Linked DNA regions of Homo sapiens. The gene in region 1 interacts genetically with each later gene. Each region holds a gene or a part of one and is shown in the gene's direction. Other genes may lie near its edges.

The links.
Region 2: changes in STK11 (region 1) and PDS5A together harm fitness more than expected from each alone (negative genetic interaction), as found in Homo sapiens cells (one large-scale study listed by BioGRID).
Region 3: changes in STK11 (region 1) and PRKRA together harm fitness more than expected from each alone (negative genetic interaction), as found in Homo sapiens cells (one large-scale study listed by BioGRID).
Region 4: changes in STK11 (region 1) and MPV17 together harm fitness more than expected from each alone (negative genetic interaction), as found in Homo sapiens cells (one large-scale study listed by BioGRID).
Region 5: changes in STK11 (region 1) and FBXO42 together harm fitness more than expected from each alone (negative genetic interaction), as found in Homo sapiens cells (one large-scale study listed by BioGRID).
Region 6: changes in STK11 (region 1) and GTPBP2 together harm fitness more than expected from each alone (negative genetic interaction), as found in Homo sapiens cells (one large-scale study listed by BioGRID).
Region 7: changes in STK11 (region 1) and CSNK1A1 together harm fitness more than expected from each alone (negative genetic interaction), as found in Homo sapiens cells (one large-scale study listed by BioGRID).

The regions. Positions count from the first base shown.
Region 1 is NC_000019.10:1,208,778-1,212,277, forward strand, and holds part of STK11 (serine/threonine-protein kinase STK11), read left to right. Parts: intron 1-3,500. UniProt on the Homo sapiens protein: Tumor suppressor serine/threonine-protein kinase that controls the activity of AMP-activated protein kinase (AMPK) family members, thereby playing a role in various processes such as cell metabolism, cell polarity, apoptosis and DNA damage response.
Region 2 is NC_000004.12:39,866,412-39,869,911, reverse strand, and holds part of PDS5A (sister chromatid cohesion protein PDS5 homolog A), read left to right. Parts: intron 1-449; coding exon 450-518; intron 519-2,914; coding exon 2,915-3,051; intron 3,052-3,500. UniProt on the Homo sapiens protein: Probable regulator of sister chromatid cohesion in mitosis which may stabilize cohesin complex association with chromatin. May couple sister chromatid cohesion during mitosis to DNA replication.
Region 3 is NC_000002.12:178,441,176-178,444,675, reverse strand, and holds part of PRKRA (interferon-inducible double-stranded RNA-dependent protein kinase activator A), read left to right. Parts: intron 1-175; coding exon 176-254; intron 255-1,291; coding exon 1,292-1,409; intron 1,410-2,971; coding exon 2,972-3,066; intron 3,067-3,500. UniProt on the Homo sapiens protein: Activates EIF2AK2/PKR in the absence of double-stranded RNA (dsRNA), leading to phosphorylation of EIF2S1/EFI2-alpha and inhibition of translation and induction of apoptosis.
Region 4 is NC_000002.12:27,316,598-27,320,097, reverse strand, and holds part of MPV17 (mitochondrial inner membrane protein Mpv17), read left to right. Parts: intron 1-2,924; exon of another isoform or gene 2,925-2,998; coding exon of another isoform or gene 2,999-3,020; intron 3,021-3,500. UniProt on the Homo sapiens protein: Non-selective channel that modulates the membrane potential under normal conditions and oxidative stress, and is involved in mitochondrial homeostasis.
Region 5 is NC_000001.11:16,254,981-16,258,480, reverse strand, and holds part of FBXO42 (F-box only protein 42), read left to right. Parts: intron 1-1,721; coding exon 1,722-1,875; intron 1,876-2,659; coding exon 2,660-2,770; intron 2,771-3,500. UniProt on the Homo sapiens protein: Substrate-recognition component of some SCF (SKP1-CUL1-F-box protein)-type E3 ubiquitin ligase complex. Specifically recognizes p53/TP53, promoting its ubiquitination and degradation.
Region 6 is NC_000006.12:43,623,130-43,626,264, reverse strand, and holds part of GTPBP2 (GTP-binding protein 2), read left to right. Parts: coding exon 1-39; intron 40-400; coding exon 401-509; intron 510-704; coding exon 705-902; intron 903-1,202; coding exon 1,203-1,377; intron 1,378-1,535; coding exon 1,536-1,755; intron 1,756-2,196; coding exon 2,197-2,332; intron 2,333-2,469; coding exon 2,470-2,528; intron 2,529-3,135.
Region 7 is NC_000005.10:149,499,440-149,502,939, reverse strand, and holds part of CSNK1A1 (casein kinase I isoform alpha), read left to right. Parts: intron 1-3,500.

The DNA.
Region 1 (3,500 bases):
CAGCTAATTTTTTTTTTTTTTTTTTAGTAGAGACGGGGTTTCACCATCTTGGCCAGGTTGGTCTTGAACTTCTGACCTCGTGATCCACCTGCCTCAGCCTCCCAAAGTGCTGGGATTAAAGGCGTGAGCCACCGCGCCCGGCCAGCACGCTTCTTAATCAGCATGCAGGCTGTGACATGCGGAAACCAGGGGCACAGGCTCTGAAGTTTGTACTCTGGAGCTGGAGCAGTCAGGGTTAAATGGGAGCGGCTGGGAAGGGTGTGTTTCCACGAGGCCTTTCTGATGTCTCAGTGCCCAGTCTGGACCCGGGTAGAAGGTGTGGCCAGTGCCTTGAGTCAGTGGAGCAGTTGCCTGTGCCTGGTCTCTGTGAGATGGGTTGGTCAGGGGCTAGGCAGAGCCTGTGCCTGGTCTCTGTGAGATGGGTTGGTCAGGGGCTAGGCAGAGCCTGTGCTGGGGGTAGCAGGTGCCCTCTAAAGGGGCCAGTGACAGTCTCTCTCCCAGCAGTGAGAAACCCACGCTTAGGGGCCGGGCGCGGTGGCTCACGCCTGTAATCCCAGCACTTTGGGAGGCTGAGGTGGGTGGATCGCCTGAGGTCAGGAGTTCGAGACCAGCCTGGCCAACATGGTGAAACCCCATCTCTACTAAAAATACAAAAGTTAGCCGAGTGTGGTGGCGTGTGCCTGTAATCCCAGCTACTCGGGAGGCTGAGGCAGAACATTGCTGGAGCCTGGGAGGCGGAGCTTGCGGTGACCCGAGATCGCACCATTGCGCTCCAGCCTGGGCGACACAGCGAGACTCTGTCTCAAAAATAAATAAATAAATAAATAAATAAATAAATAAATAAATAAATCTGGCTTGAGTTTTGACAAATGTATATGCAGGGTCAATGGGAAGACAGACGCTGGAGGGTGGAAGCCTGACTGTGAGAGTGAGCCCCCTGCTTTCCTGAACAGTCAGTGGAGGAGGTCCTGGGAGCTCAGGTGAGCACCTGAACGGTAGGGCAGAGCCTGAGGGTCTTGGTGGAGACAGGCAAGAAGGTTGCAGGAACCTAGTCTGGCCCAGTGCCTGGGAGAACGGGAGGGAACACGGAGGCAGGGAGGCAGAGGGGTTGGCAGGACCTGGACTGGACTGTGCGTCGCAGCTACCCACAGCTTGACCCCACTGCCTTGAAGTGAGTGATGCACCCTCACTAGTGTTCAGCGTCCAATTTCATCCTGGCCCTGAGTGTGTAACGGCTTTGCCCTTGCGGGGCCCCCTGGGATGAGGGGTGAGCCCTGTCCCTTCCTGGTCACTGTCTGCCATCAGGAGCTGCCCCGCTTACAGCTGTGATTCAGGAGCCACTGCATTTCCTCCAGCCCCCTGGGTGCTGCCAGGGGGTCCTCCTATTCTGGGAGCTGGTGTGTTCTGACTGGAGGCTGCCATGTGCAGAGTGCTGTCAAGGAGAAGGGGTGTCCACTGCCCAGCCCTGAGGCCCAAGGCCTTGGCCAGCCTTGCTGCCAGCGCTGCAGGGAAAAAGCCTCCTTTGTGTGTGGGAAGTTTAATAAACTCCGCTCAGATTGTGTCTCGCAGCGAGTGTCTGGAACCTTCCAGACAAGCCTCAGGCGTCCGGTCCTCCAGTTGGTGTGGAAAGCGTGGGCGATCACCAAGGGGGGTGGGTTGGGGCAGATGGAGCCGGCGTGAGTCCCGTCTCTTCCCTTCCTTCCCAGAAAGGCAGCCCTGGAGTCCATGCCTTGTCCCGCTCTCACCGGCAAAAAGTATAATCTTATTAGAAATAGGAAAGTTCCAAAAAGCATCAATGAGTTAAAAAGAGGGCTGGGCATGTTCGGTCATGCCTGTAATCCCAGCACTTTGGGAGGCCAAGGCGGGTGGATCACCCGAGGTTGGGAGTTAGCCTGACCAACATGGTGAAACCCTGTCTCTACTAAAAATACAAAATTAGCTGAGTGTGGTGGCGCACGCCTGTAATCCCAGCTACTCTGGAGGCTGAGGCAGGAGAATCACTTGAACCCGGGAAGCAGAGGTTGCGGTGAGCCAAGACCATGCCATTGCACTCCAGCCTGGGTAACAAGAGTGAAACTCCGTCTCGAAAAAAAAAAGGGCTGGGGCCGGGCGTGGTGGCTCACGCCTGTAATCCCAGCACTTTGGGAGGCCGAGGCGGTTTGATCACAAGGTCAGAAGTTTGAGACCAGCGTGGCCAACATGGTGAAACCCTCTCTCTACTAAAAATAGAAAAACTAGCCAGGTGTGGTGGCACATGCCAATAATCCCAGCTACTTCATCTGAGGTCAGGAGTTCAAGACCAGCCTGGCCAATATGGCGAAACTCCGTCTCTACTACAAATACAAAAATTAGCCAGGCGTGGTGGCGCGCGCCTGTAGTCCAGCTACTGGGGAAGCTGAAGCAAGGAGAATCGCTTGAACCTGGGAGGCGGAGGTTGCGGTGAGCCGAGATCGCATCATTGCATTCCAGGCTGGGCAAGCCTAGGAGAGAAGAGCGAAATTGTGTCTCAAAAAAACAATTAATTAAAATAAAATCAGTGCCATAGGCTGTTTCTGGTAGGCAGTGGGTTCCTAGGGTGGAGCAGGGAAGGGCTGGAAAGGGTCGCCTGTGCCCAGCCCGACTCCCCGTGCTTCTCGGGGGACAGCACGGCTAGCTGCTGCTGCGGAGCCCACAGTGGGGTTCTGGGGGGGGGGGTGCAGGCAGAAGGCCGCCATGCCTCCCTCCCCCTTTCCACCCCAGTGAGAGTGGGCTCGAAGGCAGGGAGTCTGCCCGCCTTGTGGAGCCTCCGCAGAGGCACCCAGGGCTGCCGTGAGCGCACAGCCTGGCGGTGTCCCACGGCCCTGCCCTTTCCTGTCACTTCCACCTGTTGCAAAACACTGTGCTTTCGTATCTTTTCTTTCTACCTGTTTGGAAATGTGAAAATCACTGCTGCCGTAGGAAACGGGCCCAGATCCGGGCTGTGGCTCTCCCATCCGCACCGCCCCCGCGGTGTCCAGCCAGGAGGTGGGAGGTGGGCGGCACTCAGTGTGCCTGGTTGCGGCGATGATTGGCAGATGCTTGGACCTATGGTAAAGAGGATTTTCGCGAGCTGGGAGTCAGTCCTGGACTTTGTAGGTCTTTACATCCCAGGCGGCCTTTATGGGGTTCCAGCATCTGCTGAGGCCCCTGCGCCAGCCATGTGAGGCCTGGGTGTCCTCGAGGCCTCTGTTTGTGCCCCTCTCTGGGCAGCGGGAGGGAGAGCTCTGAGACCCAGAGGGAGCTCAGGGGCTGGGCAGCCGCAGAACAGCGGGGGTAATGGGTCCACTGGGGGTTCTGGGCTGTGCACACAGTGGGCTTCCGGTGCCCAGCCAGCTGGGGCAGGCCTGGAATGTTGGTTCCTCTCTCAGGATCTGGGGCGCTGCTGTAGCTGTCGGGGAATCAGTGAGGCGGCTGGACGGCCCGTATATCCCACAAACGCCACCGTATTGCTCAAACTGGACTCAATTTTCTTAACACCTTTT
Region 2 (3,500 bases), on another chromosome or scaffold:
TGGTCTCAAACTCCTGACCTCAAGTGATCCACCTGCCTCATCCCCCCATAGTGCTGGGATTACAGGCTTGACCCTCTGCACCCGGCTGAATATCCAGTTTTTCTAGCACCATTTGTTGAAGAGACTGTTCTTTCACTAAAGATGGTCTTGGCATCCTTTGTCAAAAATGAATTACCATATATGCAAGGGTTTTCTGAGTTCTCTATTCCATTAGTCTATATGTCTATCCTTGCCAGTACCAGCCACACTGTCTTGATTACTGTAGGTTTTATAGTAAGTTTCAAAATTGGGAAGTATGAGTCTTCTAACTTTGTCCTTTTCCAAGCTCTGGTTGGTGATGTTCCCGTAGGTTTCTCAGAGGCTGTGTTGATCAACATGAAAAACTTAATCAGCAAAAACATAAATTTTTTTTTTCATGCTAATAGCTAAATTTATTCAATTGTCTATAGTCAACAGGTGAAAAGAATGGAAAACTGTGGTCTCCAGATGAAGAGGTTTCCCCTGAAGTACTAGCAAAGGTAAATTTGTTTAGGCCTTGATAATCTTCATGTTTAAAAAAGGGACATTTTGTAGTTATCTTCCTCACCTTTAAAAAATTTAATAAACAGAGATGGGATCTTGCTGTGTTGCTCAGTTTGGTCTTGAACTCCTGGGCTCAGCTGATCCTCCCACTTCAGCCTCCCAAAGTGCTGGGATTATGAGCTTAAGCCATCGTGCCTAGCTGGGAGCCTTTTTTAATTAAACCTAATAGTTAATAAGCATTTGTTAAGGAGGTACTTTATTTTAAAATCCATTGCAAAAAATGGTTTATTGAAGACATTGTGGTTGTCATTGTTTATTACATGTCAGTGTCTTCTGCCTGCTAAAGCAATCTTAATGAGGCTGTTTTATAGAGAGACTGTTTATAGAATGACGGTGCTCAGAGGCATCTTAAATCCAGCCTCATCACCACTATCTACAAGCATATGAATATTAACTTGGCAAAGATAGGTAATTGTCAAGCTGGGCACTGTGGCAGATTTGGGATTTAAAATAAGATTGTATCATCTTCTTTGATAATCTGTTTCACTTTGTGTTGCTTCATCATCATCATATATTCTATCAATTCATTTTTCCTGGTTGTCAATAAATATAATAAATAATACTTTGATTTGTTTTTCACACCTATTATCCCAGCACTTTGGGAGGCAGAGCAGGAGGATCGCTTGAGCCCAAGAGTTCAAGACCAACCTGGGCAGCATAGTGAGCCATGTCTCTACAAAATATTAAAAATAATTTAGTTGGGCTAGGCATGGTGGCTCACGCCTATAATCCCAGCACTTTGGGAGGCTGAGGCAGGCAGATCACTTGGGGTCAGGAGTTCAAGACCAGTCTGGACAACATGGTGAAACCCCTTGTCTACTAAAAATACAAAAACTAGCTAGGCATGGTGTTGCACATCTGTAATCCCAGCTACTTCGGAGGCTGAGGCAGGACAGTCACTTGAACCTGGGAGGTAGAGGTTGCAGTGAGCCAAGGTCCCGCCACCGCCCTCCAGCTTGGGCAACAGAGTGAAACTCGGTCTCAAATAATAATAATGATAATTTGGCCGGGTGTGGTGGTGCATACCTATAGTTCCACCTACTCAGAAAGCTGAGGCAGGAGGATCGCTTGAGCCCAGGAGGTCAAGGCTACAGTGAGTTGTGATCATGCCAGTACACTCCAGCCTGGGTGACAGAGCAGATAGAGATGATTGTTACTAAATTTGTGACATTTAATAGATGTAAAGCTCAGTTGAAAAGTGGCAGATTTGGGATTTAAAATAAGATTGTATCATCTTCTTTGATAATCTTTCACTTTGTGTTGCTTTGTAGTCATCATATATTCTATCAGTTCATTTTTCCAGGTTGTCAATAAATATAATAAATAATACTTTGATTTTTTGGCTAGCTTTTTCACATATATTGGTAACAATCTTTTGACTAGACATTTCTAAGTAATTATGACTACCAATAATTACACAAAATCCCATTTTTTTGGTCACAATGTTAAATGAGACTGAATCAGACTTGATGGTTTCTTCAAAGTAGTTTTTCAATACCACAAAACTGAAACTCTCAAGTTATTTTCAGTCACCACAATCAGTACAGTTGTGGGGTGTGTGTGTGTGTGTGTGTGTGTGTGTGTGTGTGTGTGTGTTTTGGTTTTTTTATGAAACAGAGTTTTGCTCTGTCACCCAGGCTGGAGTGCAGTGGCACAATCTCAGCTCACTGCAACCTCTGCCTCCCGGGTTCAAGCAATTCTCATGCCTCAGCCTCCTGAGTAGCTGGGACTACAGGCGTGTGCCACCATGCCTGACTAATTTTTTTTTTTTTTTTTTTTTAGTAGAGACGGGGTTTTTTAGTATAGACACGGTTTCACCATGTTGGCTAGGCTGGTCTCAAACGCCTGACCTCAAGTGATCCACCTGCCTTGGCCTCCCAAAGTGCTGGGATTACAGGCGTGAGTCACCACCCCCGGCCTGTATAGTTTAAATTGTTGTTTTTAAAGTATATGTTTTCAAATAGTTTCAAAATCTTGCACAAACATCTAAGTATGAGAAGCCTAAATTCTGGAACCAGACTTTTAAGCAAGTTATCTATGATAATAATGTGTCTCAATTGCCTTATCTGTTGGAAAAAAAAAAATCTTCCTCATAAGAATTTTTTGGGAGATTAAATAAGTTAATACATTTACAGATCTAAGAAAAGTGCCTGGCACTGGTTAAGCACAGAGTAAATATTAGTTCGTATTGTTGCTGTTATTATCCCATAGACTTATTTAATAAAATGTCTGCTGATGGAGATGAGTAATCTCATTAATCTAATTAAATTAATTTTCCCTTTAATTGGAATTTTAAGTTGCTTTCTTTTTTTAGCATGTTAATATTTTATAGGTACAGGCAATTAAACTTCTGGTAAGGTGGCTGTTGGGTATGAAAAACAACCAGTCTAAATCTGCCAATTCAACCCTTCGGTTATTATCAGCGATGTTGGTTAGTGAGGGTGACCTGACAGAGCAAAAGAGGATCAGGTGAGATTTTTCTTTCTTTCCAGTTTTCTTAGTGCTGAAATTTTGGTGGAATTTACATAGGAATTATTTACCTAATGAATACTGAATGGTGTAATTACACCATGATCTTCAGGGTCAGATCTTATGTACTCATTTAGGGTTTGTCTGTCTGTCAGTATTGTTATTTTAATAGTGCCAATATATTTTTCTTCATTCCTAAAGAAGAGGAACTTTTTCCAGTAAATACATAATCATAATCACTATATTGTACTATTACAGTTAGCATCAACATTTGGTTCAATTAAACAAGTATTTGTTAAACTTCTACTTCATAAAACACTGTGAAAAGCATTGCAGCAAAAATAAGTAGGAAAAGTCCCTGCCTTCAAAGAGCATCCCTGTATTAAAGCGATTAAATAAGTGGAGTGACTTGAGTCCCATGAAAGTAATAAAAATTTAAGTGGCAGCCA
Region 3 (3,500 bases), on another chromosome or scaffold:
GATATATCTTGGATGACCGATCAGATTCCCATAGAAGAGGTCTGAGAAAAGGGCATTCCATGTAGAAGGAATGACAAGAGCAAAGACATAGAGAGTTAATTAGAAAATGCTTGTCATTTATTTCATAATTCGGGGGAAATTATTTTGTTTTATAACACTTTTAAAAAATATTTAGCTTTGCAGTTCCTGACCCCTTAATGCCTGACCCTTCCAAGCAACCAAAGAACCAGCTTAATCCTATTGGTTCATTACAGGTAAGTTGTACAGTTCTTTGCCTACTGATGAAATATATAATAAGTTTGTAATGTCAGAGGGGCTAACACAAGGAATTAATATTTTAAAGACAAGATAGTGATATATTTTGTTTTCCAACTTACGATCATTAGATTAACAGAGCTAACTTGAAATTATTTTCCTATTTATGTTCTGGGTTTTCTTTCATATACAGTATTTGCCTTTGGCTTATAGAATTCTCATTTAAGATCAACAGGCCCTCAGTGCACATGGGTAAAGTGTTTTATACTTTAAGAATAGTTCTTGCTACTCTTGTGACAAATCTCTTTCTACTTCTGTTGAGACAGAAGACTTTATAGAGAGCCTAAATCAAATCAGTGAACCTAACTGAAGAAAAGGAGTCTATTTGCTTATTCTACCAAAAAAAAAAAATTTTATCTATACACACACAAACACACACACATATATTCAGCTTTGAATTTCTATATGCAGAATATCCTTCTTGCAGATTATCCATGTGCTCTGTTAGGCCATTTCCCTCCCCATTATTCAGCCAGTCCTTTGGTCTCCTTTTCCTGCACAGTGAGCTTTTCTATAGTTTTCTTCACCTTCTGTCCCCCACTTTATGCAAGTCTGTTGTTTGCTGTCCCTACTCCTCATGTGTTCTTGGCCAGCTGTGGGTTTGGAAGTCTATAGCTAGGAGGGGAGGGACTTTAGGAACTGATGGCAGTGAAACCTGTAGATGGTCTCCTCTGGTGTTGCCAAAGAGGGCGGTAGTAGCCTGTTTTTCTAGTTGATGTCTGATACCAGCTCACTGTGGTTTAATGCAAGAACACCATTCGTAGCACAAAACTGCTTCAGTTTTGGTATTGGGGTATAAAAATATAAAATGCGGGAATGTCTTTGAGAAATAGAGGGTCTTCCCTCTTTTTTCTGTTGCAGAATATCACTATTCTTTTCAAACATATACATAGAAATGGGATCAAAATTAAGAAAACACTTATGTGATTGAGCCATTGCATAAAATTACTATTAAAGCCTCATCTTGATTTTATAGGAATTGGCTATTCATCATGGCTGGAGACTTCCTGAATATACCCTTTCCCAGGAGGGAGGACCTGCTCATAAGAGAGAATATACTACAATTTGCAGGCTAGAGTCATTTATGGAAACTGGTACTTATTTCTTACAATTAAAGGCATTTGAAATATTTTCAGATGATGAATGACTATCGAAATTTCTGTCGTAATGTTTTCAAATATTTCTATGCAGAAAAATTGATACACTCCTCTTTTATTGTCTCTGACTTTCTGAGGTTGAACTTAAGTATAAATATTTGGCTTAAGATACTTAGTCTTCTTAATTTGATATTTTTAAAAATCATAGATTATTAATAGAAAGACAAACTGTTGGCTCTGTACTTTAAACAGTCTTCATTGATAAATTACTGACTTAAAAAACCTCAATTTGGAGAAAAAGCTATAGTAAATCTCTTGGATTTTAACAGCTATTCTATCTAGAAAATAGGACTAGAGGAAGATTACACTTGAAAATTATATGATTAATAAGAGACTACATGGCAAATAATTGCAGTGAGATAAAAATGAAAATTATCTTTCTTAATTATAGCAACTTCTATGTTATAAAGGATATAAACTATAAGAAACGCTGTCACTTTAAAAAGTACTAGCGAGAATTCCTGTTAACTTCTCTGGCATGTTTTTGTTATTTTCAAAAGTGGCTTAAAATGGGATTTTAGCTTAGCTAGATAATAGTTTCAAGTAATAAGAAACTATTTGCCTTTGGGAGGTAGTGTGGCCAGTACAGAAAGCACCAGGCCAAAAGCAGGAACCTCAGCTTCCGTCCTTGATGCAGTCCTTGATTCGCGAAGTTAAGCAAATTACTTAATTTCTCTGGACCTCAGTTTTTTAATCTATAAAACAAAAGCATGGAGGTAGATATTTATGGTATCTTTCAACTCCACCATCCCCTGTGCCTTTCTTATTCCTGTTAAAAGGAATTTCATATAATCGTCAGTTTAGAGAAGATCATAAGCAGGAAATAGACATTGAGAGAGAGGAGTTATAATTCAGATGTATTTTAATAAATCTAAATAATTGGTCAGAATTAAACCAAATATGGTTCAGTAATGCTAGACATAGGAAAATACAATTATTATAGAAAAACAGAAAGCATAACTATTAAAGAAAAACTTAAAACAAATGTCTTCAAAAGTGTAAGAATTAGTAACTATACAGGCCTGGCACAGTGGCTCACACTGATAATCCCAGCCCTTTGGGAGGCTGAGGTGGGCCGATCATATGAGGTAAGGAGTTTGAGACCAGCCTGGCCAACATGGCAAAACCCTGTCTGTACTAAATACAAAAAATCAGCCAGGTGTGGTGGTGGGCACCTGTAATCCCATCTACTTGGGAGGCTGAAGCAGGAGAATTGCTTGAACCCAGGAGGCGGAGGTTGCAGTGAGCCAAGATGGTGCCACTGCACTCCAGCCTGGTGACAAAGTGAGGGTCCGTCTCAAAAAAAAAAAAAAAAAGAATTAATAGCTATACAAACAAAATAGCATAACAAACAAAGTTATCAGGTCAGTAAGAACATAGTCTAGTATATAATAAAAACCGTGAGGTTCTCTGATTAAACACAGTACTTCATACGTTTGATCATCCTCTGTGGACACTAATTTCTTTTCTAAATCTACCATTTCTTTTTCTTTGTTCAGGAAAGGGGGCATCAAAAAAGCAAGCCAAAAGGAATGCTGCTGAGAAATTTCTTGCCAAATTTAGTAATATTTCTCCAGAGAACCACATTTCTTTAGTGAGTAATGTTGACAGCTATGATGTTAATGTCATTAAGCATTTCTTGCAGTAGGAAACTTTCCTTGATTTCTTATTCTATAGCTACTTCAGAGTTGTGATTTTTAGAAATCTCTTCATTATTCAGTTATACCCTACCCCATTTTTAGCTGCTTCCTGTTTGTGAGTCAGGATCACAGAGGCAATTAGGTAAGAGAGCTTGGGAGACACAGTCAAATTCAGAATAATAGGACGGGATCTAAAGATGATAGGCCAGTAGTGCCATTTTTGCCTTCAAAGTGACAGCGCATTTCCATCCCTTTGTTTGTTCATTCATTCACTTAGCAAACATTTAGTGAGCTCATACTGTGTGCTAAGTGTTGTGTTGGGTACTGGGGTGCAGTGAATAAGCAGTCCCTGCCTCTAAGGAGTTTATAGACTACTGAAAGGAAGGAA
Region 4 (3,500 bases), on another chromosome or scaffold:
GCCCAGCTAATTTTTTCTATTTTTAGTAGAGACGGGATTTCACCATGTTGGCCAGGCTGGTCTCGGACACTTGACCTCGTGATTCACCCGCCTCGGCCTCCTAAAGTGCTGGGGTTACAGGTGTGAGCCACTGAGCTCAGCCTTTTTTTCTTTTTCTTTTTTTTTTTTTTTTGAGATAAGGTGTCACCCTGTTACCCAGGCTGGAGAGTGGTGGTGCTATATCAGCTCACTGCAACCTCCGCCTCCTGGGTTCAAGCAATTATCATGCGTCAGCCTCCTGAGTAGCTGGGACTACAAGTGCACAGCACCACACCAGGCTACTTTTTTGTATTTTTAGTAGAGATGGGCTTTCTCCATGTTGGCCAGGCTAGTCTTGAACTCCTGACCTCAAGTGATCCGCCCACCTCAGCCTCCCAGAGTACTAGGATTACAGGTGTGATCCAGTAGGCCCCACCTGGAAATGTTTTTAAATGCTCAGTGAACTTAAAGACTCAACAGGTTGGTTCTTTCTATGAGTGTTGGCAACACAGGCACAATAAACTATTTTATTATTATTATTATTTGAGACGGGGTCTTGCTCTTTTGCCCAGGCTGGAGTGCAGTGGCATGATCCCATCCTGAACTGTGACTATGCCACTGCACTCCAGCCTGGGCAACAGAGGATCCTCTGCCTTAGCCTCCCGAGTGGTTGGGACCGCGGGCTTGCACCACCATGCCCAGCTAATTTCTTTTGTTTTTTGGTAGAGATGGGGTTTTGCCATATTGCCCAAGCTTTATTCTTTTTATAGTGGCGTTTGGGTTAGGTTTGTTCCACTTGCCATAATCTGAACATGGATCACTATCTTAGCCTTGGGTTCCGGAAAGCAGAGCCTGAAGCTTATGTGCAGATACCTTGTTAGGTAGTAGGGAGTGATCCCATGGAGGGAAAGAGGGAGAGCCACTCTAAGGATGCATTATTGAATTAGCCACTGCTAAGGGCAGCTGTTGCTCAGTCCCTTGGAACTGAGAAACTTTTTGAAATACTCCTTAAAGTGTCTGGGCGTGGTGGCTCATGCCTGTAATCCCAGCACTTTGGGAGGCTGAGGTGGGCGGATCACCTGAGGTCGGAAGTTTGAGACCAGCCTGGCCAACATGGTGAAACCCCGTCTCCACTAGAAATACAAAAATTAGCTGGGCATGGTGGCGGGTGCCTGTAATCCCAGCTACTCGGGAGACTGAGGCAGGAAAATTGCTTGAGCCTGGGAGGCGGAGGTTGCAGTGAGCTGAGATTGCGCTACAGCACTCCAGCCTGGGCGACAGAGCGAGACTCCATCTCCAAAAAAAAAGAAAAGAAAAGAAAAGAAATACTCTTTAGGACTGTCTGGATGAATAGCTATTTTCTAGAGAAAAGAAGAAACCTTTATCTGCCACTCCCATCCCACAATGGTCAAAGATTCCAAAGACTTACCCCAGGCTGGGTATGGTGGCTCACCAGCACTTTGGGAGGCCGAGGCAGGCAGATCACTTGAGGTAAGGAGTTCGAGACCAGCCTGGCCAACATGGTGAAGTCCCGTCTCTACTAAAAATACAAAAATTAGCCGGGCATGGTGGCGCATGCCTGTAATCCCAGCTACTCAGGAGGCTGAGGCAGGAGAATTGCTTGAACCCAGGAAGTAGAGGTTGCAATGAACCAAGATCCTGCCACTGCACTCCAGCCTGGACGACAGAGCGAGACTCCATCTGAAAAAAAAAAGGCCGGGCGCAGTGCTCACGCCTGTAATCCCTGCGCTTTGGGAGGCTGAGGTGGGTGGATAACCTGAGGTCAGGAGTTCGAGACCAGCTGACCAACAAGGTGAAACCCCATCTCTGCTAAAAATACAAAATTAGCTGGGTGTGGTGGCAGGTGCCTGTAGTCCCAGCTACTTGGGAGGCGGAGACAGGAGAATTGCTTGAACCTGTGAGGCAGAGGTTGCAGTGAGCTGAGATTGTGCCACTGCACTCCAGCCTGGGTGACAAAGCAAGACTCTGTCTCAAAAAAAAAAAAAAAAAGAAAAGAAAGATTGACCTCATGGGATAACTCCGCTCCGCTACTAGTTCACACATGCATAGTCACTGCAGCCATCAATAGCAAAGGCCCAGGTGTGGCACAGGCCTGAAGCAAGAATCTATCCAGTAGAACTGCAGTAATGGCTGGAGTAAGAGATAGTGAATCAAGAACATTTGAAATGATTCAAAAGAAATGTCTAGTATACCAGTTTTGGCCAAGCCAGAGTCCAGAACAAGGTAGCCTGGGGAAAGGTTTACTGTATGTTCTATGGAGTGTGAGTCAGCCTTATCCCTTCCTTCTTTGAGGGCCCTTCCACTCTCCAGTGGGCCCAGGGCCGAGCTTCATCCATCTTAGTCTACTCGGTCCTGCTGTGGGAGCAGCTGAGCTCTTACAAATACTGGTTTCCCTGGAGTCTGAATTAAGCCAGGGTATGAGAGCTCAATAGGCCTTACATACAATCCTGTCCAGCCCAGGAGACTGCAGAGAAGGAAACTGAGGCAGGAGTGGGAGTGTCATGCACTGAGGTCTCAGATAGTCAGTGGCTGAGCTGGCGTTATAACCTAGGGCACTGCCCACCATACTGCCTTGCACTTGAGACTACTGGAGCCTCCAGATGCTGAGTGCAACCCCAGCTGATCTGAGCTTAGATACGTAACAAGCTGCAAAACTACCCGTTTTGTCTCATTTTCTAGCAGTAGGATGGGTTCAGGTCAGAAATGGGAGAGCATTCAGAATAATCCCAGAGGATCCACTCCCCTCCCGCTGCTGGGCTTCCACTCCCTCTGGGCTCTGTGCCAGACTGAGCCCCTATCCTAGGCAGCTAACTAATGTTTGCAGACTTCTGGGGAGGAAGGCAGCACTGCTGGCCCCATGCCAGTAGCTATACCTGCCGACCCAGGCCTCCTGGACTGAAGGACACGCTTCCTGCTCCTCACTCCAAGAAGCCACTTCTTGCCCCTCTGCCTTCTGCGCATGAAACTCAAAAGCCACAAAAGTAAGTAGAGGAACAAAATAGGAGAAGTAGGGAATTTACCCTGCCCATGCCCGGGAAGAGGGTGTGGAAGTTGGGGCTTTTCCACTAGTGGGCAGGAAGTGGTCCCAAATTGATCTGCTCAGAGGCAGGCTCCCTTCCCCCTGGCCGCTGGATCTGTTCGGGAGTGACGGCATGAGAACTGGCACCTACCCAGGGGCATGATGTCACACCTGCGCCAGCATCTGCTCGCTGGGCTCCACGCCCAGCCTGTCATTGGGCATCACTGCCCAGCAGCCCCTAGCCCTGCCCCATCAGGCCTCTGGCCATTATGTGTCTGCAGGCCTCCAGTCCCAACTCCCTAGAAACAAGTCCAAGGGGAGGGGGCCCAGAGCACTGGAGAGTCCAGACCAACCAAATATATCCAGGAGATCTCCCAGAGGCTGGGGTGGTTTGGGTCTATTTGGGCTCTGGGTTGGGAAATGTGGGATGAGGAATCTGAAT
Region 5 (3,500 bases), on another chromosome or scaffold:
GGAGGTTAAAGTGGGAGGATCCCTTGAGCCCAGGAGGTTGAGGCTGCAGTGAGCCGTAATTGTGCCACTGCACTCCAGCCTGGGCAACAGCAAGACCCTGTCTCAAAAAAAAAAAAAGGAAGAAGAAATGAAAAATAGCTGATGCCACATGGTGTTCTTAGATGCTCACCCTGTACTCTTCAGGACTGATGCCTTCTCAGTAAATCGTATTGTTCCCCTAAGTGAGATCACAAGAAAGACAGTCCTCTGCTCTACCTTCTCAACCTTGAGACTTTGTAAGTGACACCATTAAAGCAGTCTGAGCAGGGCTTTTCAAACAGTGTTCTGTAATGTGCTACTGAAAGAGGAAGCAAAGCTCTCCACCTAGATTGGAGCATCTCGACTGCTGTCAGGTTAATGTAGTGTTGGGATTTCTTCTGCTTAAGATATCCTTTGAAAAATGAGTCCTGCAGCTTTAACCAAAAAGAAAAAAAAAAGATTTTAAAAAAAAAAGTATTCTCAGCGAGGCATGGTGGCTCACGCCTGTAATCCCAGCACTTTGGGAGGCCAAAGCGGGTAGATCACCTGAGGTCAGGAGTTTGAGACCAGCCTGGCCAACATGGTGAAACCCCATCTCAACTAAAAATGCAACAATTAGCTGGGCATGATGGCAGATGCCTGTAATCCCAGCTACTCAGGAGGCTAAGGCAGGAAAATCACTTGAACCCAGGAGGTGGAGGTTGCAGTGAGCCGAGATTGCATCATTGCACTCCAGCCTGGGTGACAAAGCGAGACTCCACCTCCAAAGGAAAAAAAAAGTATTCTGGTATTTACTGACACCTGGATATTGGGACAAGTTACTTTGGTCTTGAGGAAACTAAAGGTGACATGTAGAGTGAGGGATGGGGAAAAATAGCAATTGTTATTTCAAAGACAATAGATTTTGAAAAATTATGCTCCTGTAAGACATTTGTTATCTCTAAAGTTTTCCAGCATAAGCCAAAGTGTTTTTTTTCAGAATTTGGTCAGTGTAGCCCAGAGGTCCAGTCTAGATGGTGTTTGGTGTAAGACTTATGGTTTCACTGGAATTCCTTCACACCAATCCTTGAAGGTCTGCCCCATTTGTGCTAGGCTGAGGCTATCTGGTTATGTGAAGCCCATAGCTAGGGGCCTGGAGGTCCCTATGTTAAAATTTGACTCACGGGACAAATAAGAACTGCCTCCTGCCTCCTTTTCTTACCTGTGTTTTGTAACGAGTTATTTTTAAGTTGCATCCAGACATCCAGCCTCTATGTATACTTCTCCCTGGTCCTCTACATTCTTTCTTTTCTTTGTGACCTCTGTTAAGTTTGTTAAAGGGATGGGAAGGGGTGCTCATTTGTTGAGCACTTTCTATGTGCCAGGCATTATGTTAGGTGCTTTGAATATACTATTTAATACTCAAAACAGCCTTATGAGATAGGTACTCTCATCCCTAATTTTAGGTGAGCAAATTATAAACATGAGAGAGGCTAAGTAACTTTTCTCTAACTCATATTTCTCTGTTAATAATAAAAGACGTGTGAATTAGTGATGATTTTCTCTCAGACTCAAACCCAGTTTTCTTTCCACCTTTCCTCTACACTTTGTAGTATTAGTTCCCCTTTTGTTGCTCTTCCAGGGAAAGGTGATCTATGGATAGCCTAACTACGGATTGTTGTGAGATCCTGAATGCTAACCATGGTGTTACTGACTTTCCCTAGGGTCCTATCCTTCCCCCAAAGCTGGAGCAACTCTGGTCGTGTACAAGGACTTGCTAGTGCTGTTTGGTGGCTGGACGCGGCCAAGCCCTTATCCCCTACACCAGCCAGAGAGATTCTTTGATGAAATACACACTTACTCACCCTCTAAAAATTGGTAAGTCACAAAGATAAACTCTTTAAATCTGGAAGAAAAGGCCTTAAATCAGTGGATTCTTTGTTTTTTTGTGTCAAGAGTCCCTTTGAGAATTAGATGGAAAGCTGTGGACTCTTTTCCCAGGAGGGGAAAAATGCACATATTCACAGATTTTACCAACAGTTTCAGAGAGTTTACAGGACTCTCTTAGAACCCTGCATTTAGAATCCTTATTCTAAAGAGAAAAAATAGAAGAGATTTATTCCTCTTTCAAGAAAAATGAATGAGCCAGTTGAAGAACAGCGAGCTCTTCAGCTTTGGCTGCTAACACTCCAGGAGTGTTGTAGATCCAGATGATTCCTTACTCCTAACTGTGTCTCCAAGACTTACTCTGAATTGTTTTTCAAACATATATCTCTTAATGACAGCAACCGCCGTTTCTTGTAATGGAAGACTTAGTACGTGGCGCTTGTTAGCTGTTACTGATCAGGACCATAGGGAAAGGTAGCAGGTGGCAGGTGGTGCTTTGTCAGCAAACCAGGCCAAAGAAGCCATGATCTTGTCTCTTGTCATCGTTTTCTCATCTCTCTCCCTCCAGACCGTTTACATTCAGAACTTGAAAGAAGATAACTTTAAGCAAACTTGTAGGAAAGGCATAAATACATTATGCCATCCTCTACTTATTATCCCAACAAATCTCTGCTGAAAGTGATAGGATTATCATTTTAAATGGATGCCTACTTACTATTTTTACATAAAGTGTGTGGTGCTGACTTCTTGACTTCCTCCTGTCTTTTTACATTAGGTGGAACTGCATTGTGACAACCCATGGGCCACCTCCCATGGCTGGCCACTCCTCCTGTGTGATAGATGATAAAATGATTGTCTTTGGTGGCTCTTTAGGATCCCGGCAAATGTAAGTACATTTGGTTTGCTCCATATGAGCCTGAAGGTAAATACTCCTGGGAATAACAGGTTTAAAAGTGAATTAGGGACCAGGTGCCTAATTCACACCTGTAATCCCAGCATTTTGGGAGGCCAAGGTGGGTGGATCACCTGAGGTCAGGAGTTTGTGACCAGCATGGCGAACATGGCGAAGCCCCATCTCTACTAAAAATACAAAAATTAGCCGGGCATGGTGGCACACACCTGTAGTCCCAGTTACTTGGGAGACTAAGGCAGGAGAATCGCTTGAACCTGGGAAGTGGCGATTGCAGTGAGCCAAGATCACCCCATTGCATTCCAGCCTGGGCAACAGATCGAGACTCTTAAGGAAAAAAAAAAAAAAAGTAAGTTAGGGTCAGTATTCCTGAGCATGGCTCTAATTAATCCAATTAGTTATCTCATCCTAGCATTCTGTTCTTTAATCCCTTAATCACAGACCAATAAATTGAAAAATTTGCTCTATAAAATCATAGTTATATAGAATCTCTTTGACATATGGTTCTATTCAGTAGGATCAAATTCTGATGGAACCTCCACCTTGCCTGCTGTGCTGTGCCTGCAGAAGGCCAACTTTCGAGAACAGAATGCTTTTACTTATTCTACTTTATTACCCAGCTCTTGCCCTTTTGGGCTTTAGAGGAGAAGAGGGGGAGATTGACAGGACAAGTGGAAATGGTGGGCCCTCCAAATGTGATAGGTTG
Region 6 (3,135 bases), on another chromosome or scaffold:
GCGAGCTTCGCTCAAGACCCTGCACCGGATGGCAGAGAAGTATGCTTCCCCTTCCCCACCAGTTCTCCTTTACCTGACTTGGGGGGACCCATGCATACCCAGTTACCTAGGGCCTGAGGGGCCAAGGTGGGACTTTCCTTCTCTTGACAAAGGGCTGAAGTGGGGAGGGTTAGTGTTTTGGTCCCCTCCTCACTGGACCTAGGCTGTTTTGCTCCTTGAATTAAGATATGTATATTTGTTTTAAAGGGAACTGTGAATGAGGAATAGATTGGAGGGTGGTAGGAAGTGCACTAAGGTATTGGGAGCTCTGTGGGAGGTGCAGGAAGTCTGTAGGTCCAGAGCGAGCCTGGAATAGGAGAAGGACAGGTGAGATATGGCAGCTGTGGCCTTGCTGTGACAGGGTTGGGGCAGACATAACCGTTCTTCGAGAGCGAGAAGTGGATTATGATAGCGACATGCCCCGGAAGATCACCGAGGTGCTAGTACGAAAGGTCCCTGACAACCAACAGGTGAGCACACACCCATCCCTGTCTCTCATGTCCACACTGTGGAAGGGCCCTGTGGTGGCAGGCTGTCTCCTGGCCTGGGATCCTGGGGGCTTCCAGTTCATCACTTGCTCCCTAGGGAGCGTCACTGCCCTTGACCCAGTCTTCAGTTAGAGGGGTGAGAGATTGGAGTTCTTATCTCTGGCAATTCATCCACAGTTCCTAGACCTCCGTGTGGCCGTCCTGGGGAATGTGGACTCTGGGAAGTCAACTCTGCTTGGAGTCCTGACCCAGGGAGAGCTGGACAATGGGCGGGGCCGGGCTCGGCTCAACCTTTTCCGCCACCTGCATGAGATTCAGTCTGGCCGAACCTCCAGCATCAGCTTCGAGATCCTGGGCTTTAACAGCAAGGGAGAGGTGCATGGGATCAATGGGACCCAATGGGGCCAGACTCTGAGGATGGGATGGTAGTAGTGAAGGACATAGGATGGGGGTAGAGTGTGGAGACTTTTTGAAATAGTATAGATGAATGCCCTGAGGGGACTGTGAACAAGCTCTGCCCCTCTTAGGAAATCAATGGGGAATCAACTAAATTAAATAAAAAATGGGGTCAAGATTAAGAGGCAGGGTCACCCAGGGAATGGTTTAGGTCCTGGCAACTCTGAAGGGGTTGGAAGGGCTGGCAGGAGGCACTGAGGGCCCTGGGCCCTGGGCCAGGTGGTGAATTACAGCGACTCACGGACAGCAGAAGAGATCTGTGAGAGCAGCTCCAAGATGATCACCTTCATCGACCTGGCAGGCCACCATAAGTACCTACACACCACCATCTTTGGCCTCACATCATACTGCCCCGACTGCGCCCTGCTCCTCGTCAGTGCCAACACTGGGATTGGTACGAGGCATTAGGGCAGGGACAGGGCTGAAGGGGGGTGCTGACTCTCCTACCCTGGGCCTCAAATCTTGGAGACAGACCAATGCTCCTCTTCTTCCCTCTCCTCCCTCCTGCATTCTCACTCTTCTCTCCTGCTGCTTGCTGTCCTTATGAGGCAGCTGGCACCACAAGGGAACATCTGGGGCTGGCCCTGGCCCTGAAAGTGCCCTTCTTCATCGTGGTCAGCAAGATCGACCTATGTGCCAAGACCACAGTGGAGAGGACAGTACGCCAGCTGGAGCGGGTCCTCAAGCAGCCTGGCTGCCACAAGGTCCCCATGCTGGTCACCTCTGAGGATGATGCCGTCACTGCTGCCCAGCAGTTTGCTCAGTCACCCAAGTAAGCCCACCTTACTCTAAAGCCCTGATCCACTAGGAAGGCTGCCACAGAGCCCAGGGCCCAGAAGCATGATATCCTACTTCTCCAGGGCCAGACCAGTTCTGGCTTAGTTCTGCGGGTGTTTCAGCTTGGGATTGTGGAGGGGCATCTTGCTAAAGGGCTTGACCCTCCTCCCGAGCCAACCTGGAGCACTGCTGATGCCTGGGACCATGGCGATGAAGTGCTATACCAGGCATTTGCTGTTTCCCTTGGGCTCGGATGGGCTTTTTGTGTGACATTGCTCGACTGGCTCACAAGAAGGCCCAGAGTTCCTGAGCCATTTGCAGACAGGAGAGAGGGGCCCCCAGCCAGAACAAAGCTCACCTTTCCATGTATGGGGCTCTGGCCTCTGCCTCCTGTTTGGACTGTCTTCATCTGTCCATTCCATGCCTCCCTCTACAGTGTCACCCCCATCTTCACATTGTCCAGTGTGTCTGGAGAGAGTCTGGACCTCCTCAAAGTCTTTCTGAATATTCTGCCGCCACTCACCAACAGCAAAGAGCAGGAGGAACTCATGCAGCAGCTGACGGAGTTCCAGGTAGTTGACTGCCCAAACATCTAATAGGCTGGGAAACAGGGAGGGGCTGCTTCAGACCAAACCCAGAGTCTGTTTAGAGATTTTGGACCCACCAGCCCTACTTGGCAGGCCATTGATAGCGTTTTCTTTGGCTTCAGGTGGATGAAATCTACACAGTACCAGAGGTGGGGACTGTTGTTGGAGGAACACTTTCCAGGTAAATTGTCTTGCTTGCTACCCTCCCCACTCAGCCCTCACCTATATACTCAAAGACATCCTGGCCCAAAGGAGGAGACCCTGGAATTGAACGGAACCCATTTAAAGGACATGCTTATTTGCAGATTAGGCTTTCACTATCAGAAGAGCTGGAGAACGGTAGTCTGTTGGCTTTGGAGGGAAGAAACAGTATTGCTGCCTATTGGGGAATCTCCAGGCCCCTGAGAGAGAAGTGTGGGTCTTGAGCTCCAGGAAGAAAACTAGAGTGTATTCAACTGACTTCATCTCACACAGGGAAATGAGAGACGTCACTTAAGACTCTTCTTTCTTTCTTTCTTTCTTTTTTTTGAGACAGAGTCTCGCTCTGTTGCCCAGGCTGGATTGCAGTGGAGCGATCTTGGCTCACTGCAACCTCTGCCTCCTGGGTTCCAGCAATTCTCCTGCCTCAGCCTTGAGTAGCTGGAATTACAGGCGCCTACCACCATGCCCGGCTAATTTTTGTATTTTTAGTAGAGATGGGGTCGTCACCATATTGGCCAGGCTGGTCTTGAATTCCTGACCTCAAGTGATCCACCTGCCTCAGCCTCCCCAAGTGCTAGGATTACAGG
Region 7 (3,500 bases), on another chromosome or scaffold:
AAAATTAGCCAGGTGTGGTGGCGTGCACCTATGGTCCCAGCTATTTGGGAGGCTGAGGCAGGAGAATTGCTTGAACCTGGGAGGTGGAGGTTGCAGTGAGCCAAGATTGTGCCGCTGCACTCCAGCCTGGGTGACAGAGTGAGACTCTGTCTCAAAAAAAAAAAAAAAAGGAACTCATACAGCTCAATGATTCATTGATCCCAATAATAAATCGTTTTAATAATGATGAAAACATCCTACTGGGGTTTTCTTGTTAAAAACTTTAGGACAGGCGCAGTGGCTCATGCCTGTTATTCCAACACATTTGGGAGGCTGAGGTGGGAGAATTGCTTGACCCTAGGAGTTCTAGACTTGCCTGGGCCACATAGTAAGACCCTGTCCCAGCTCCCTCCAACATCGTCCCCAACCCCCCCCCCCCCAAAAAAAAAAAGCGCCAGGCGCAGTAGTGAGTGCCTGTGATCCCAGCTGTGTTGGGAGGCTGAGGTGGGAGTATCACCTGAGCCCTGGAGGTTGAGGCTGCAATGAGAGCTGTGATCATGCCACTGCACTCCAGCCTGGGCAACAGATGAGACCCTGTGTCACAACAAGGAATTTTTAGAAGGTGCTTTTTATATTACTCTTCACAGAGTTAAATTTTCAGAGGATTTAGTATTATTGAACTAAGTTTCATAAGTGTATTTTAAGCAAGTAAATCTCTAATGTAGGAAAATCCCCAAAATGGTAGCATTTACTAATGTTTTATATGGTAATTTTTGAAAAATATATCTGATATTTCTTCAGTAAAAATGGTGTTGTTTTAATAACTTAATAAGAATGTTTAAAGATTCTTTAAGTCTGGCTTATCTAGCTAATGTGGGCCTATTAAATAATAGGCAGACTTCTGCCTTCCTTATATTCTTTAGATCTTTTCAAATACTCCATTCCAATATCCATCAAAAGACTTCTCTTTATGCCACTTATTATCTATACTAGTTTTTAATGTTCAATTACTACAAGATTATAATTACTGTTTTTATTCATGTTCCCAAGAAAAATACATAAGATTCACACCCAACACACTTCGAAATTTATTTCACTCCCTTTGACTATATGTGATTATCAAAAAAGTATTTTTCAAGATATTAAAAATAAGTAAAGGAAAATGAAATATTTTTAGGACATTCAAAATCTAATGAAGTTCAGTGTTTCTTTAATTGAGGGCAGGCAGAGGTGGGGGAGAATTTCAGAAGGTAGTGAACCCAAAGGTGGATTCTTGGATAATTCTACTATTCTGTACTCTCATCATCTTAACCCATCTGTTTACTACCCTAACCATAGTTACTAAGCAGAGTTTTATCATAATAATATAGACAGCTCTCAAAGTATTGACATTCAGAGGGGATTACAAATATTATTTTTCTATCATATTGACCTACCATGTCCACAGTCTTCCTTGAATTACCTTCCAGTTTTACTGGGCTGCATCTACCGTTTATGTCTAGTTTGACTTTTTCTGAGTTCACCAATTGCTGCTAGGAATGTGCTGGTCACTCAGCAGCACACCCACATCACAGGGGAAGATTTTGAAATACCTGGACAGTCTGAACACACTGCTCTGAATACACTCAATTCTAAGAAGTACCAGGGAACCGCATCTTCTTGCTGAAATCTTGAATTTTTGTCAGCTTTTTTTTTTACTGTGGACAGTAAAGCTGGAAAGATCTAAATAACCCAACAGGAAATGCGGATGAAAGTGCAAGAGTTGGTTTGTGGTCATCTGGAGTCCATGTCTCCAAGACTGCTGGACCTTCAAATTCTGCAACTTGTTAGATCATCTGGATGATAGCACAACTGTTAGAAGACCTAGAAGAATACAGCGTTGCTATGACTCAGTGGTGTTGAATGCAGACCATCTACCAGCTGGGGAAAGAATCAATTATAAACAGGTATTTTAAAACTCCAGAACGTCAGAAATGTGTAGCAGAATGAATTCTGTTATAAGGAAGACAAAACAATTCAGTCTGTTTTTTAATGCAGTTTAGGAATAGTGTATACCTCCTATACTTAAAATTGTCATTTATCTTTCCCAACTTTAAATACTCTTTTAGTTTCTATAGGGAAGGAAGAGTTATTACAGGTTTTTTTTTTTTAATTATTCTTTAACTTTAGATACTGCCAATCTGATTTAAAATTCTCCAAGCTTAATTCTGTGCAACAAACAGAACCACACAAGCAGCCAGGCACTGTGGCTCACTCCTATAATCCCAGCATTTTTGAGGCTAGATGGGAAGATCACTTGATCTCAGGATTTTGAGAACCATCCGGACAACATAGGGAGACCTCATCGCTATTTTAAATAATTTTAAAAAGAAAAGAAAAAAAAAGGCCGGGTGCGGTGGCTCGCTTCTGTAATCCCAGCACTTTGGGAGGCTGAGGCGGGCAGATCGTGAGGTCAGGAGATTGAGACCATCCTGGCTGACACAGTGAAACCCTGTCTTTACTAAAAATACAAAAAAGTAGCTGGGGCCGGGCGCGGTGGCTCATGCCTGTAATCCCAGCAGTTTGGGAGGCCGAGGCGGGCGGATCACAAGGTCAGGATATCCAGACCATCTTGGCTAACATGGTGAAACCCCGTCTGTACTAAAAATACAAAAAATTAGCCGGGCGTGGTGGCGGGCGCCTATAGTCCCAGCTACTTGGGAGGCTGAGGCAGGAGAATGGCGTGAACCCAGGAGGCGGAGCTTGCAGTGAGCCAAGATCGCGCCACTGCACTCCAGCCTGGGCGACAGAGCAAGACTCCATCTCAAAAAAAAAAAAAAAAAAAATTAGCTGGGCGTAGTGGCGGGTGCCTGTAGTCCCAGCTACTTGAGAGGCTGAGGCAGGAGAATGGCGTGAACCCAGGAGACGGAGCTTGTAGTGGGCGGAGATCGCGCCATTGTACTCCAGCCTGGGTGACAGAGCGAGACTCCGTCTCAAAAAAAAAAAAAAAAAAAGAAAAAAAGAAAAAAAACCCCACAACCATGTTATAGGAAAAGTTAGTATAAATGACATAGCATAATTAATATATTCAAAATAACTTTTAAAAAGTTGTCTTGTAGCTTGAAGGGATCCTAAATATCAAAAGCCCATCACAAACTTACAAGCCTTACTGCTACGTAAATATCCCTTTGAACTAGTTTCTGGTTCTATTTAAAAAGTCGAAAACTGTTGAAATTAATTTACGAATAAGAACAGATACACACTTTGTGGGGAGGCTGAGGTGGTAGGATCTCCTGAGCCCAGGAGTTTTAAGTCCAGCCTGGGCAACATAACAGCAAGACCCCATCTCAAAAAAAAAAAAGCATATCTTTTGTTTATTTTTTTAATAGACAAAGTCTCACTATGTTGCCCAGGTTTATTTGGAACTCCTGGCTTTAAGTGATCTTCCTGCCTCAGCCTCCCAAAGTGTTAGCATTATAGATGTGAGCCACCTCGTCTGGGCCAGAGCATACATTTTAGATTTCAGATTGGGTGGCGGGCAG